2 separate regions of the Homo sapiens genome follow, and region 2 is linked to region 1. The links come from fine-mapping of genetic effects on gene expression. Tissue or cell type: whole blood. Region 1 holds a variant in brackets; the other region holds the start of a gene. All regions are shown on one strand. Distances are between the middles of the regions.

Evidence for each region. PIP is the estimated chance that this variant, and not a neighbour inherited with it, causes the effect.
Region 2: it holds the start of MTFP1, and the variant in region 1 is fine-mapped to the expression of MTFP1 in whole blood (INTERVAL, PIP above 0.99).

Annotation. Positions count from the first base shown.
Region 1 is chr22:30,296,322-30,304,421 of GRCh38, reverse strand. It overlaps TBC1D10A (TBC1 domain family member 10A), which reads left to right. Exons shown (of 9, transcript NM_031937.3): 3 at 4,871-4,978. Among named protein-coding and RNA genes, the nearest start is that of CASTOR1, 11 kb to the right of the region's middle. RefSeq lists a silencer at 1,590-1,639 and an enhancer at 1,800-1,889. The variant TC/C (reference allele first, on the strand shown) is at 3,970.
Region 2 is chr22:30,422,168-30,430,267 of GRCh38, reverse strand. MTFP1 (mitochondrial fission process 1) reads right to left here and starts at 4,500. Exons shown (of 4, transcript NM_016498.5): 1 at 4,322-4,500; 2 at 3,424-3,551; 3 at 2,865-3,097; 4 at 1,214-1,806. The coding sequence starts at 4,388. The coding sequence ends at 1,734. It overlaps SEC14L2 (SEC14 like lipid binding 2), which reads right to left. Exons shown (of 12, transcript NM_012429.5): 12 at 4,965-7,991. The coding sequence ends at 7,861. RefSeq lists enhancers at 3,121-3,681, 3,682-4,240, 7,836-8,100 and a silencer at 5,858-5,967.

The sequences.
Region 1 (8,100 bases):
GATGCCTTAGGTGTCCTCCAACTGCCAGTGCAGGACAGAAGCTGGCTTGAAGGCAGGGGGAAGGTTGGGCCCTAACACAATGACTTCAGATTCATGCAGAACATTGTCCTGGAGCTAAACCTCAAAGCCACTCTTAGCCAACAGCCATAACACAGCTTTCTTCTAGCCTTCCCAGGGGAAGGACTTAAGTGCTGCTTACCAACTATCAAGGAGGACTTTACAATACTGCCAGTAACTAGCGTGTATGGAACATTTGCTTTGTGCTTGGCACTTGCCTGGGATAATTCCTTACAGCACCCTAGTGTGAGGTTAGTAATAGTAGTATCCCCACTTTACAGATGACCTGGTCAAGATTTGAACCCAAGCAGTGTACCTTTAGCACCTGCCCTCTTAGCCACCACAGTACGAGGCCTTCTTTACCCTCTAGATTAACTTGATGACTTCCCTCTTGACTCCTGGCCAAAGAAAGAAGAAAGTAACTTCACACTTTAATGATAGTCTTACGAAAATGAAATCACCCAGTAGTCCTTTTCAAGTGAGGCTGTCTTTAGACACTAGCTCTATTGCCCTGTGGGAACATTCTTGCCCACCACTCTTAAGTGTGTGTGTGTGTTGATATCCTTGGCTGCCCTCAGCATGGTGTTACCACCTGGCCTAGAGGAGGCCTGTTCCGAGCCTTACAGCTAGGGTCTCTCTGTACAAGTTCCTAATGCACAGAATGAACCCTATTGCCCACTCTCATCAGCTGACACTCTGGTCTGATCCAGGCTGGCACAGCTGGCTGCCGGGCCTCACAGAAAGCTCAGGACTGACAGTCAGGCATATAGACTTGGGCCCAGCCCCACTCCTTTCCTCTCTTCACACCTGTGGCTAACTGTGGAACTTCTGGGCAAGTCACTTCACCCTCTCAGCCTCAGCTTCTCTGGCCAAATGGGAGTGATAATCCTGTTGCTCCCCACGAAGTGGTGGTAAGTGCTTCGTAGACTGTATCGTAGATGGTGAAGCCCTGTGCTATGAGAGGAGAGGCTCACCCAGACCTGGGCTCTTGCTTGTTATTCTCTATAGCTATCTGTCTATCTATCTGTCTGTCTGTCTGTCTGTCTGTCTGTCTGTCTATCTATCTATCTATCTAACTATTTATTTGAGACAGGGTCTCACTCTGTCACCCAGGCTGTAGTGCAGCAGTATGATCTTGGCTCACTGCAGCCTCGAACTCCTGGAGTTAAGTGATTCTCCCACCTCAGCCTCCCAAGTAGCTGGGACCACAGGCACGTCACCACACGTGGCGAATTTTTGTATTTTTTGTAGAGATGGGGTTTCACCATGTTGCCCAGGCCGGTCTGGAACTCCTGAGCTCAAGCAATCCATGTGCGTTGGCCTCCCAAAGTGCTGGAATTACTGGCATGAGCCACTGCACCCAGCCTATCTCTTTTTTAAAAAACAATGTTAAGACAGTTATTCCTCACCTGCTTCCTGCCTGACTCTGGCTCTGTTTCCCTGCCTCATCATTCCTCTGGCTCTTACTGTGAGCTGTAGCTTGCTCTCCAGCAATCTGTTATGGTGACTGGTGGTTGGCAGGGACCTTCCGTGTTCTTGAAAATCGGGATTCCAGAGGGGAGCTTCGGGGAGCACCTCTCAGCAGAGTAGCAGCTGACACTTCCCCTTTTCTTTCCTGGCACTGTGGTTAGAGCCCAAGACCTGCCCCTGCCCAGCTGAGGCCTCCAGAGGAAGTGCTTCAATCCACCGTGCCCAGAGGCCCTAACTCACTGCTTCTCTCCAGCCCAGAACCATCCACTGGGTGCCCCTCGTGCCATCTCAGCTGTGGCCATACTGGGCCCTGCCCTCGGGGCTCTTCCTGCCTGTGGAGGCTTGAGTTCTCCCTCTGGTCAGGAAGTCGTGGCACAGGAAGTATAATACCTGTTTCAGGAAGTGGGCTCAGACCCAACACTTCTCCTGGACTCATACATAGTCCTGCTGGGAGGGTGCCTTCCTTTCCGGAGACTCCCAGCCATGTCTAGGACAGAATTCTGGTCCTGCAGGGAGGCAGGGCTGGGGCTGGAATGCTGTCTTCCCGCAGGGCCCTGCCCTCACAGAGTTCAGCAGGCAAGGGTGTGTCCTCACTCAGCTTTCATCAGAGACCTCCTTTCCCAAGGCCTGGCCTCAGAGAATGGTAATCCTCTGTGGTTTCTGGGAATACTTTCCCATGCTTTATCCTTACTGGTCCCTACCATCCTCCCTAAGGCAGGCAGGGTAGAGATGACCCCCTCCAGCACCTTTATGCTGAGGAGGCCAGAGTGGGAAAGGCTGGCTGTACTCCCAGCTCTTTGCTGCCCGCGAAGTGTTCCAGGGCTCTCCTGGAGAAGGCCAAATATGATGGGGGCTGTGATGATGTGGGGCTGCCTCTTGCTGAGCTTAGCTCTGTGGGAGAGCCTGAAGGGCCTGTGGCTTTGGGCTAAAGCACATCCCTTTGCCAAAGCCTGCCCAAGTTGGCTTCCTTAAGGAGACCCTTGTCCCATAGCCGCAGGAAACTCTTCCTTGCGTCTAGTGCAGTTCCCTTCAGCCCCCTTCCTCTGCCTCCTTTCTAGGCAGTCCCAGAAGCTCTCACTTGGCACCTGTGACCAGCCACTGCTACTCTTCCCCCACCACCCTCAGCCTGTTTGCCTGGCTCCTTCCTGGTTCTTGACTCTCTCTGACCCTTGGAAAGTTTTCTCTTGTTTGCACTGGTCCCCAGGAAGGCCAGGGCTTCTGTACTCCCTCCTCTGAGAGCTTCCAGCAGGACTGTTGAAGGGGGTTTCTAGGTGAGGGGAAGTTAGGTGTGAGCTGAGGTCCTGGGCTTCTGTGTCAAGCATCCTCCTGGGATGGAGGGGCAGAGAGGAAGCCATTGCTTACTGAACACAGACTGTGTCAGGCCCCACACTAAGCACATTTTCCCTCTCTAATGGACTCCTTTGACAACTCTGCACAGTAGTAGGTATTATTCAGATCTTACAGTTGAGAAGTGGTTGGCTTAAGGTCAGCGCTAGATTCAAACCCACATCCAGATGTTCTTCTCATGCCCCGAGCGCCCATCCCCTTTATCCCAGGTCAGGCTGCTTAGTGCAGGGGTTGAGGGAGTATCATTGGCCATCTCACCCCTCCCCCACCACAGCATTTCACAGGAGTGATGCCTCTGCCTTTGTCCTTGCCCACCTTGACGGGTCAGGGCAACTGCCTTCAGAGCCTCATTCTGGTCCCAAGCCCAGGAGGAGCCCACTGGTGATGTAGAAAGTACACGGGGCTGGGTCCCTCCAGCCTGTGCGGTGCAGCTAGGAGGTAGTAGGGTTTCTGATTGTATGACAAATTTACCCCCACTCTGCTTGTGTGATGAAATTTCCCCCACGAATTTTCCCCTACCCTCAATGCCCCATTTGTAAAAGACATGATCGTTTTGATAGTTTTTCAAATTGAGTTTTGCCAGTGAAAACTTTTCCTGATAAAAACAGCTAGCCGGAATTGAGCACTAGCTCTGGGTCATGAGCTGCCTCAAATACTTCCTCCCTCACTTCTCCCATTCTACGAGTGGCAGAGAAGACCTGGGCCATTTTAGCAAGGGCTGAGATCAGGACTCACACTCAGGCCAGCTGCCTATGCCCCAGGCTGGTGATGTTGGGAGCTCAGGGTCAACGAGAGGAGAGTGGGGATTCTTGACCAAAACAAAGAGGGAGCCATTTGAGCAGCTCCCATCTTCCTTCAGAGTTCTGCTGAGATTTCTCCCCTCTAGGCTGGCGGTATCCTGCCACATGGCTGCTGAAACCAACATACCTGCGTGAAAGTGCCCAGGCCACACCTCTGGGCACATTCTGGTTCATCTCATGAGCTACCTTCCCTGTGGCTGCAGCTGAGCCGCACACAGTGCAATGCCCTCCCTGGTGACAGACTATGGGGTTCACCCAACTTGTAATGGTTCCTTTTCCTTTTTTTTTTTTTTTT[TC/C]CTGAAACAGAGTCTCGGTCTGTCGCCCCGGCTGGAGTGCAGTGGCACGATCTTAGCTTACTGCAACCTCCACCTCCTGGGTTCAAGCGATTCTCGTGCCTCAGCCTCCCAAGTAGCTAGGATTACAGGCGCCCACCACCATGCCTGGCTAATTTTTTGTATTTTTAGTAGAGACGGGGTTTCACCATGTTGGCCAGGCTGGTCTCGAACTCCTGACCTTAAGTGATCTGCCCTTCTCGGCTCCCCAGAGTGCTGGGATTACAGGTGTGAGCCAGCGTGCCCGCCTATAGGGTTCCATTTTGATTCAGAAGATAGTTATGAGGGTCTGGAATTCCATGGCAAACCTCAGGAATGCCTGTGTTGTCACCAGGGATGTGGGACCCTGCCATCACCTGGTGTTAGCATATCTAATTGCAGGCACCTCCTCTCCCCGCACCATAGGATTGGCATGGTAGCAACAGTAGGAAAAGTCCTTTTTTTTTTTTTGAGACAGAGTTTTGCTCTTGTCACCCGGCTGGAGGGCAATGGCACGATCTTGGCTCACTGCAACTCTGCTTCCCGGGTTCAAATGATTCTCCTGCCTTAGCCTCCCGAGTCGCTAGGATTACAGGCGCCCGCCACCACACCCAGCTAATTTTTGTATTTTTAGTAGACACGGGGTTTCACCATGTTGGCCAGGCTGGTCTCAAACTCCTGAACTCAGGTGATCCACCCGCCTCGGCCTCCCAAAGTGCTGGGATTACAGGCGTGAGCCACCTTGCCCGGCGAAAGTCCTCTTTTCTCCCTGTTTCTGCTCTTGCTGCTGTGTGCACTGAGGGCCCACCACGCATTGGCAGAGGGGCTGGGCTAGGGGAGCTGCCTGGGTGGCTGCATGGGCTCAGCTGTCCTTTTGATTTTCAGATTCGTCTGCGGTGCCAAAAGGGCATCCCGCCTTCTCTGCGGGGCCGTGCTTGGCAGTACCTGTCAGGAGGCAAGGTGAAGTTACAGCAGAACCCTGGAAAGTTTGACGTAAGTTTCCCTTCCTTTGCCCTGCCCTCCCTTCCGCATCTCTTGGCGTCCTCCCCATGGCGGCAATCCTCCATGTGCTCACCTGAACCTCACAGGATGAGCAGTCCATGAAACCTCCAGTCATGTGCCCAACTGCCCAGGCCCCAGCAGGCCAGACCGGCCCAGTCCTGGGTACCTGTGTCTCCTGGAGGGTCTGTACAACTGAGGCTCCAGCCCTGAGCAGCCCTCAGTGGAATGGCCAGATTTGGTACCCCCTATTCCAGCTCTTTCTCTTGATGACCACTCAGGTTTTGCTTTCCTGGGCTCAGTAGGCTACCTCCCTGCTCTTGGTCATCAGGAGGGGACACTCAGACCATTTCCCTGACTGCCTTGGGCCCTGTGCCCTGGGCCTATGGGGGCTTGACTAGCAGGACCACAGGTCCTTCAGTGTCTCCCGGCCTCCCATCCTCTACTTTCTCCTGCCTTGTCCAAGCCTGGCCAGCACAGCCCACCTGTGTGTCTTGTGGGGTCATCAGCCCTAGGAGTAGCAGAGCCAAACCCAAGGGGGCTGAAGGGAACTGCCCAAGTAGCTCAAGGGGTCAGACGCCAGTCAGTGGCCAGAGAGGGTGCCCTCTGTTGTTATCCCTCCTCCTGTCCCGATATCCCTCCTGCTGCTCCCTGCCCCATGGCTGGCCAGAGTAAAATACCTCTCCATTCAGAGCTGGGCAGCTCCTCCAGCCTGCTCCCCCAGGGAACTATGGGGAAGCAGTTGGATTCCCTGGGGTTGCCCCGGCTTACCTGCCAGATCTGGCCGCAGGCATCGGGGTTTCTCGCAGGCCCTTGGGACTGGTGACAGGCAGACAGTGAGACAGAGCAGAGCTGCCTACCACCAGCTCTTTGTTGACATATCTCATGCTTCTTCATTGAACACTCCAGTCTTGCCAAACCTGTTCCTTGAGATGACTGGGCAGGAGCAGGGCAAGGTAGCCTAGAGTTTCTGCTGTTGACCTGGAGAGGGCGAGAGCTTTTTGCTGGCAACACGTGGACTTGCAGGGGCAGGGAAGCTGGTAGAGTGTCTGGCTGGGGTAGGTCTGAATCTGGCTGATTGGATTATTCCCCAGAGCACCAATACCAGGCCACACTGGAGCAGCCTCTTGACTCCAGAGTCTTCCTCCTAGTGGCTACATCTCTTCCATTTCGAGGGGCCGCATCCTGGGCAAAGTGGGAGGCTCAGGGGTGGGAACCTCAGTCCAAGTCCATAGTTAAAATCAGGCTGCCAGAGCCAGGCATGAGAGCCAAGAGCGTGGGCAGCCTGGTCAGCCTCTTGGCTGTGTGGTTCAGCAAGCATGAGTGTGTGTGCAGCAGAACACAGAGCTGTGTGCATGTGTGTGTAGAGCTGTGCTTCCAGAGAAGAATCAGCCACCCCCCAGGGGGTCTGGAAAGTTGCTTGTGTGAGGAGGTGGATTTGCAGAGAAGGCCTTCTTGATGCACCGAAGCTGAGTGACGGGTTCCTGCATGGTTCTGGGGGCTGGAAGAATGGTTTGTGAGCACACCTGGAAAGACTTTGCCTGTGGGTGACCCAGAGGAAGCATGAGGAGCTTCCCCTGGTTGCTGCGGGTCCTGTGCCGAGGCAGGGCACAGTGGGGGTCTGGTGATGGCAGCATGCACCTGTTTCTGTGCTCTCTCCCCACAGGGCCCTCCATTCAATACCCAGTCCAGGTGGCCCATCCCAACCTCAGCATTCAGGGCAGGCTCTGCAGGTGCTGGTGGCTCCTTCTCCTGCACGTGCTATTTCTTCCTCCTTCCTTGGGCAGGCAGGACCTCCTGTCCTTTTTTACCTGGCTTTCTTCTCTGGCTTCACCTTATGATGGCGCCAGTACCCCTCAGGCTGGTGGAGGCTACAGGCCCCATGACCATGGTACCTGCTTGTCTGCCGGTGCCCTTTCGATCTGCAGCTACCCTCTTTTCCTTTCTCACCAACCATGTGTGGCCAAGTGCCTTAGGCTGCTGAAGTGCCAGATGAACACATCCTAGGAACTGACTTCCGGGGTTTTCGGGTTCCTACCTCATGGGAACTGCTAGGAGAATTTGTGGGGCCCTCTTCCCCATTCTGACAAAAGCAAACCTGCACTGCGCTCAGACAGTACTTAGAGGTGCACAGTACACAGACCCCCATCACAAGGGTGTGTGGGGCCCCAGAGGCACGCATCCACCGCTCCGCTATGTGCCTGCTCTAGGGCTCTGTGTGGAGGCCCCAGCCCCTCCCTGTCCCCTCCAGCCCTGAACACTCTGTCAGCCGCTCCTCTCAGTCCTTACCCTCTAGTCAAGTTCCTGGCACCCTAGGTTCTTGAGCTTAATGCTAGGACACTCCCACTGAGGGCCAGAGAGGGAAAGGGGCTTGTATGAAGTCACCTGCTCGTCAGGGCAGGGCCTGTGTCTGCGCCCACTGGGTATGTTTGCTGAGGACCTGGCCTCCCTCCTGAGGGCCTTCCCTGATGCTGCCCCTGCCCTGCAGGCAACTTGTACTTAAACCAACACTCCCATGAAGGTGCCTGGGCCACACCTTTCAGCACATTCTGGTTCCTCTGGTGAATACTCTGCTTCCCTGCTCAGCCCTCTGGGCTTCCTCCTTATTTATTTTTTCTTTCTTTTTTAAAAATTGAGGTATGAATTTACATACAGTAAAATGCATAGATCTTGAATGTGCATGCAGTTCAGTGAGTTTTGATAAATAATACACATCCATGTAACCAACATGCAGATCAAGGTAGAGAACATTTCAAATGACCAAGAAAAGATTTTCCTTTTTGTAATGGCTTTGTTGTTTTGTAAAGGTGCACATACTGAAGCGTTCACAGAAGTTCAAAGAAAAGAGTAAAACTTTGTTGAAACCTCGGCACCCAGAGAAGTATCTGAGGTTAATGGTTTGACAGATGTCATGTCCTTCCAGAAAGAGCTCTGTGCAGATCTCACACACACCTGGCTTCCTGGATAGTTGACGCCACCTGCACAGGGAGGCATGTAGCTGAGGAGCTGGGATGGACGGCTTTGAGTCAGACCTGGCTTCCAGTCCCAGCTCCACCATTTTTCTAGCCAGAGTTAAATACCTTGACATGAGGCCTTGACATTCAGTTTTCTCATCT
Region 2 (8,100 bases), 130 kb before region 1:
GGGAGAGCCTGCAGAGTGGAAAGTGGAGAGTGAGTGAGCAAGGAATTGGTGGTAGATGCCAGGAGATGTCACAGGGATGCAGGTGTGAATGTACCCCGCATGGGGCTGTGACTGCCGGGGGAGAAGATGAGCTGGGAAAATGCTGGGCTGGAGAAGGATGTGAGTGCCAGCTCAGACAGGGAATGGGGGGTGGGGTCGGGGGCTAGAGAACAAGGCGGGGCTTAAAGCCTTTAAGGGAGCTGGGAGGGAGTGACAGGTGACTGGGCAGAGGCCATAGGGGCTTGGGAAGGGGACCTTGCCAGTGTGGGACAATAAGAGTAGCAGAGAAAGGCTCAGCCCACATCAGACTCATCCTGTAGCCATGGATACCCCCAGAGCAGCAGGGGCCACCACCCCGGAGCCCCCATCCTGTCTTGCTGGCAGCACCCCTACCCAGCCCTGCAGCCCCTTTAAGTCCCAGCCCAGGTGCAGGTGAGTCCCACCAGGACAGGGTCAGCCTACCTGACTGCACCTGGGCTGCAAGGGATGGGGCCAGGGTCTTGGTGGGAGCTGATTTGGTGCTTGGGGCAGGGCTGAGAGGGGCCCAGGTCTGCTTCAGCCCTGTGCTCCCACCTCTCTACCTCTCTGAGCTGTTGAGGGGGATGGCCCAGGATCAGAGGAATGGCCCCCTCTAGCACTCTCGAGCCCAGCAGCTCAGGGGAAGCCACAAGGAAAACAGGCCATTCCCTGATTCTGAGTGTAAGAAGCCCCCTGGTCACTTCCTTCTCCAGGCTGCCGAGTCCCCTCATGAGGAGGTCTCATGTGACCCTCATATGGGGCTGACACCACCATCTTGGCCACCTTCAGGCTCAGGTGGTATCTGCCCAACAGGCTCCCCTCCCAGAGGGGTTGGTGCTTTAGGAGGCTAGAAAAAGAGGGCAATGCCAGGCTGAGTGCAGTGGCTCATTCCTATAATCCCAGCAGTTTGGGATGCTGAGGTGGGAGGATTGCTTGAGCCCAGGCATTCAAGGCCAGCCTGGGCAACATAGGGAGACCCCCATCTCTATTAAAAGTAAGTAAGTAAAGGGTAATGCCTACCCCAAAGGAGGCTGGCAGCACCAACGTGGGATGCCAGGCACCTGCAGGGAAGCACTAATGGGCGGGGAGACTGCTACCCATCCCTCCTCCCCACCACCACATCCCTGCTCCTCCCAAACAGAAATGAAGACATAACAACCTCTTCAGGATTTATTGGGTCAGGGAAGGGCCTGGCCAGAGAATCTGTCCTGAGGTGTCCCTGGTACTGCACTCCTGAGTTTCTCCCTGAGTTGTCTGCCGCTCCTTGTTCAGCCATACCACCATGGGGTGACTCTGTCAAGCACCTGGGGGTCCTGGGTGCCCAGCTTGCCAAGTGATCTTGGGCCTATTCCTTGCCCTCCCTGAGCCTCAGTCTCTCATCCTCCATGGGAGGATGTAATTTTCCTGAAAAAGACAGGGCCGGGCCCACCCAGGGTCCACTTCCACTCAGCATCTTGGATTCCAGGGAAGCAGACAGCGTTCAGGTCCTGCCCTTCTGTGACTCCCTGCAGCCACTGCTTCTTGAAGCCTTTGTCTCTAAGCTTCTGTCCAGCTCAAACCCACCCAGGTGCCAGGGTCTTTGGACACCAGGGAGCCAGGTGTCCACATTCCCTGGCAGGAGTAGGAGGTTGACATGAAGCAGGAGGCCGATGCACAGGCCAGGTACCAGAGTATGATCAGGAGGAGCTGGGCTTCCCCACTGTTGGGTAGAGCTTGCGCAGGCTGGAGTCCAGGAGGAAATCCACCGACCTGTAGGGAGTGGAAGGGTGGTGAGCAGGTGACCAAGGGTGTTCATGAGGGAACAGAAGGCAGAAGGCCAGGGTTAGGGAAAGGGGCGCTTAGATGCAGGATACAAATGCCATCCAGCCAGAGACCCACCCTTATCCTGATCCTTCCACCTTGGGCTACCTGGGGAAGCTAGAATCAAACTCCCAGAATAGAAGCCATCCTCTTCTTTATTCAGGAGGAAACTGAGGTACTGGGTAAAAGACTTGCTCAGGGCCTCAGGGTCAGCTATCTTCTCCTGGAGAAAGACTGCTCCTCTCACTCTTACATTGGTCTGGTTGGGTTGAGCCCATATCTAGTTCTAAGACCAAGCACGTGACCCAAGCCTGGCCAATCAGCAAAGGGAAACTGGCTCATAGGGTGGGCATGCAGTCCAGAATGGACCAATGACACCCTTCCTTGGGATTTTTGTTGTTACTGTTTAAAAGCTTCTGCTGGGGGAGGCTAAGCTGGTGGGATAGAACTTGGGAGCTGCTAGGGCCATTTCTACTCCCACAAGGAGAAAGCAGGTGAAGCCAGCAAGAAATAGGGTGGGGTGGGGAGAAAGGCAGCAGGATGGGGAGACCCAGACCCCTAATGACATAATTTGGGTACCTAGATCTAGCCATGCCTGAATGCAACACAGCCCTGGACTTTTACTCCATTTTATTCAAATATTCAGTTTGAGTTAGGCTTCTGTCACCAATACCTCCCAAAATGCATCCCCTCTAGGGTGCACCTGCTCCTGCTTCTCTCTGGTTGTTTTGTAACACTAGACTTTCTTTCTGGGAATTTACTTGTCCTGTGTCCCATACCCTCAACGCACCCCTCTTCTTTTATTGCTAAAGTGCCTGCCATACCATATGACAAGGGTACAGGCTGTCCTTTCTAACCCAGGAGCCAAGTGCCAGCCTTGTCCCTGCTATTGCTCCAGCAAAGTGGGCATACCCCACACTTCACAGAGTCTAGCTCTACCTGGAGACTGGATGATCCACTCTCATCACTGGAGAGTGGATGATCCCTGAGGCCAAGAAGGTACCCACCTGTCAATGGGGTGGATAATGATGGGGATGGTCAACAGCCCAAGCGCGGTGGTGGTCCACTTGCGGACAGCCAGGGGCCAGCGGGTGGCAGTGCCCAGGACATAGAGAGAGGCAGCACACACGCGGTTGATGGTGAAGCCCGGAATGGCCACAGAGGCTAGAGCCTGCCATACAAAGGTGTCCACCACAGCCACAGTCACCCTGGCGCTGCGGCCTGCTTCAGGGCTGGGCACCTGGTGGGCGCAGAGACACTTAATCCAGCTGGGGCAGAGGCAGAAAATCCTGCGACAAGGGGCACGAGGCTAGACCGGGAGGGGCAAGTGGCCAGTGGACTTGTCCGCACCCAGGAGTGGGGTACAGTCTGCCACATCCAGTTCGGGGAGTGGGAGTGTGGGGGCAGGGGTACACTGTCCTACAAACAGGACTGTCTATGGACTGCACTAGGCAAGGTTGTAGGGACTGGAGTGTCCCACAGGGACTTTATCACATGCAAGGCTGTGGACTGAACCACACAAGAAGAGAGCTAGGGTTGGGGGTTGGAAAATAGGCTAACACTCACCTCTCCAGCCTTCTTGCCTTTGTCAATGGCATCCGCCAGCACGTAGGAGCTGGCCACGCCATAGCTCAGCCACACCACCGCCGCTGGCACAAGAGAGCGGAAAGCCTCGCCCACCTCATTGGCATAGCCTGGGGGAGGGAACATTTAATTCCTAGGCTCGCAACTGTTCCACGAGGGGGCGTTGGAGCAGGCTGGTTCTCATCCTAGCCAGCTAAGCAGTCCCTGGGTGACCTTAGGCAAGTGACTTGACCTCTCTGAGCCTCCCTTTCCGAGATGTAAACTGGTGCCATGATGCCCACCTCGGACTCGGGCCACTGAGGGCGGACTGAGCACTGAGTCACTGTTACCATTGCTTATTGGTTAGATTTCCTGGTCTTGGTCCCAGGAGTAACTGCACTAATGAGGTGACAGGCACCCAGAGGGGCAGAGTGATCGAGGGCAGCGCCACTGACCAGACGCTCGCCAAGTGCCAGGGCTTTCTGCGCTTTATCCCATTCCACCCTCGCAACCACCACCCAATGAGAGAGGCCCTCGTGTGTATCTCGTTTGTTTTTTGTTTTGTTTTTGTTTTTTTGCCGAGGAGGAAACTGAGGTTCAGACAGAGCCAGTGCGTGTCAGGACCGAAATGGGAGTGGAGATCCCGACTCCACAGCCAGCCAGAGCGCATGCCAGAGCGGGCAGCCCGCTCACCCCATGGGAGCTTCCGCCCTGGGCGACCCACCAGGGTAGTGTGACCTTGGGCAAGTCCCTAGCCCTGTCTGAGCCCAGTCTCCGGCCCAAAAGCAGAATGAGAACTAAGATCATCCCGCCTCCTCCAGGCCCCGGGCGGGCGTCCGGCGACCCCTGCTTCTCCAGCCCAGTGGTGGTGGGGTCGCCGCGCCCGTCGCCCCGCGCTCACCCAGGTATCGCACCCACGTGTCCCGGTAGAGATCGCGCTCTGCGCCCCGCGGCTGCGGCTCTGACATGACTCTCCCGCCACGGCCCCGGCCACTACAGCCGGTACTGGCTCCACTGCAGTCTCCGCCGCCGGCACTTGGGTCTGCCCGGCCGGGACCCGCCGAAAGTCCCGCGCCGAAGGACAGGTCAGGAAATCTCCGCCAGCAGGGAGCGTCTGCAAATTCCCCCCGCGCACCGAAGCCCCTCTCCCAGGCTCGGGTTTTACAGACTGGTTTTCGTCACGTTTTCTCTGAGCTGTTGGCGCTAATCGCTCCCAGGACTGAGTGTAGGTTTTGGAGCCAAAGAGACAGGGGATCAAGTTGGGGGATGCTACACTGCAAAGCTTGTGACCTCGGGCTTATCCAGCATCTCTTTATTCATTTGTAAAAACGAGGGAGGGACACAGGCTGGGCCCGTTGGCTCACGCCTGTGATCCCAGCACTTTGGGAGGCCGGAGGCGGGAAGATCTCTTGAGCCCAAGGGTTCGAGAACAGCCTGGACAACATAGCGAGACCTCGTCTCTACTAAAAAAAAAAAAAAAAAATTAATGTAATAAATAAAATGGGGAACACAATAGTGTCCACTCCCTAGGATGGTTCCGAGGATTAATTATAACAGTCACCATTTATTGAGTTTATTGCCAGTCTACATGTTCGCTAAAGGACTCTCCATGTCTTACACCTGAAACCCTCCCACCAGCCTGGGAGCCCGTTTTACAGGTGAGAAAATGGAGGCACAGAGAAGGTGGGTCATTTTCCCAGAACACACAGCTGCTAAGTGGTGAAGTTGTGATTTGAATCCAAACAGTGTGGATCCAGATCCCGTGCTCTTAATGCGAGCTCTAAATGAGGCTAGAGGAGTGAACGGTGAGCCCCTGGGAGGTAGGTGCCTGGACTCTGGAGTCCCTTCTCAGCAGTCGCCATGTATAACTAGGAAGCACTCGCATTTAACTGGATCAGTATGTCCCCAGACTGAGCTTCTTGGGGACAGGATGTTGGATGAATTAATTAACGAATGAATGAATCGGGCAAGGGAGACAGAGTTGGGGTTAGTGATTACAACAGGAGGAAGCCTTCCCCCGCTGGACCTCAGTTCACCCAGGTGAGCAATGTGTGCACTTCACTAAGTCTCTGTGACTCCTTGGCGGGTATAATTGAGCGGCGTTGGAGACAATCCTGGGTTCAAATCCTAGCTGTGCCGCCTACTGGCTGTTAGCCTCCCTGAGCCCCAGTTCCCACGTCTGCAAAAAAAATGAGAGTAGCCAACATTGACGAGCACTTACTTATACCAAGCTCTTAAGCGCTTTGCACGGCTTATTTCCTTTAATCTTTGCAACAACCCAAAGTGTAATAGTAAGCACAGGGTTTTTGCGTGATACCCGGTAGGCCTTATTAAGAATTAGCTCTTATTTTCATCAAAGGTAGAGAAAATGAGTAACTATTGAGGCCCCCGCTGGCTCCCTACGGAGGCCCCCGCTTTCAGCCCTAGGCGCCTCTGTCTTGTAGGGCTGTATAGGACAGTCCGGTCAGCAGTTACCTCAAGCTGAGCTGGGCTTGTAGGTTGGGGAGGGTGGTGGGTGGGAGAAAAGTTGATGGGGAACGCAGCGGTTCCCACCCCCTGAAACACCGGCAATGCTGGCGTGGAATTATTAGACAGTCCCTAAAACCACGTGATCGCTGCTCCTCCGCCTCCCTCTCATTCTGGGCCCAGTGCTAGCTCCGCAGGCGCTCGCCCGGACTCACACTTGGCTCGCACGGGCTACGCGGCACGTACTGAGCAGCTGGCGGGGCAGGGTCTCCGCCGTCACTGTGAAGGCCGTGGGGAGCATCCTTAGTGCCCTGATCAAAGATGGCGGAAGACAACCCACCAGCTGGACCAATCAGAAGGCAAGCTGGGCGTGGCCCCTTGGGAAAGCTCACGCTAGAGAGCCGAGGAGGATTTCTGCGCATGCGCCCTATCTATTGGCGTGAAACGGCTGCTGGGTCCGGGTCCCTGACGCCGTCTGAGTTTGGGCCTCTTGAGTGAGAGGCAGCGAGGAGCCTAGCGGTGGGCATTGAATTTCACTCCCTGCGCACTGAACGTTGCTTTATTCATTGGTTAATTTTCCTAACAGCGTTGTAAACCCAGGCCGGGATGTCCTGAGCGTTCTGGCAGAGGCCCGTGCAGCCTCGGCCCCTTCCGGTCCGCGCTAGCCTGGCCTTTGCCCTGAGCTCCCTCAGCTTCGCAAGATGAGCTTCCCAGACGGGGCCGGGGCCTGGCTCTGAGGGAAAGGCGTTCCCGCCAGGTCTGGGGCCGCCTTCCCATGTTCTCTAAAGCCCAGCACCTGTGGTTCGTTGGCGGGGCTCGTGGGATTGGGGTAAGGGCTGTGGTTTCGAGGCCGTCTGTGGCCGCCCCCAGCCCCTAGTCTGCGAGACGCCGGCCCCGCCTTTGGGCGGCCTCCTGCCTGGGGGGCCTCCAGGCCTGGCTACGCCGACCGGCACCTGAACTCCCTGCACGCGTTGCATGCCTCCCACAGAGATGGGACTGCTTAGTAAGACCTTGCTCAGGTCAGTCAGGAAGCGGGTTGGCGGGCACCGCGGGACACTCAGACTGGCAAACACCCTCTCCGAGTGCTGCTCTCTTGATCCCACTTAGCATTTTTGTCTCGGGGTTGCTCACATGGAGGACTGCTTGGTGAGAGGCCGGTAGCACTGAAAAGGGCACTGGACGATCTGCTTTTAGCATTCACTCCCACCCCCAACCTCCCTGGCCCTCCCTGCAGCTGCGATCCCTGTGGGTCATTTCCCTGGCGCTTTGTTTGCATGGAGAACAGCGGGTGGGTACCCGAAGTCCCAGGAAGCTCTGAGTCACTGACAATCATTAGTAATCAAAGAGGCAGGCCGTGTGGCCCAGGAGTTGCCAAAGTCTCAAAGTGAGGGAGAGGCCAGCCTGTCTACCGAGTGGGAAGATGTGTGCTGACTCAGGCCACCTCCTGAGACCTGGGAAAAGCCAAAAGCTACCCCAGCCTCAGTGCTAAAATGTTTGGAAGAGTTTCTGATCCCCACCGTAACTCTAGCAACCAGCTACCCTGCTACTCCTCATTGCGATCTAAACTTATGTGTTCATTTAGGAGCAAGTTTCTCCCCGGCAGCTGACTTCCCTGAAGTGTTAAGTCCCAATCTTTCACCCTTTTCTAATTTTTTTCCCTGCTGCCACCCTGTGGTACATGCCCCCCGCCACCCCCAGCTTCGCTGTCCCTGGACAGGTGAAGTTGGCACAGTTTACAGGACAGACAGATCCTATCACGATGGCCAGCCAGCTCCTGGGGACTCCTTAGGTATTTGATAGACACGGAGACCCACTGCAGTCGCTCTTCCTCTGCCTAACTGAAATGAAAGCTCCTGAGGTCTGTCCTCCAGCCCAGTTTCTTTGGGCTTCAGGGTTGTGCGAAAATGACTGCTACAAGGGGTAGAAATTGACAGGGAGACACTGAGGGGGCCAGGCCTGCTATAGGAGAAGGTGTTATTTCGGGGTGCCTGCCCCCAGCTGTTTCATCTTCTCTTCTGAGGCTTTGTCTGGAAGCAGGACCTCCACAGTGAAATTGACCTTCTTGGCATGAATGAAGCTGTAGGTGTTGTCAAACCGCAGGACATCTGAGGGAAGGCAGAAACCAGACAGACATTCAGGCAGTTCTGGCAAAGGGCTTGGGGACAGTGATTTTTGTTGATGTTTAGTGACTGAGCAAGGCAGTGTGGCAGGTCA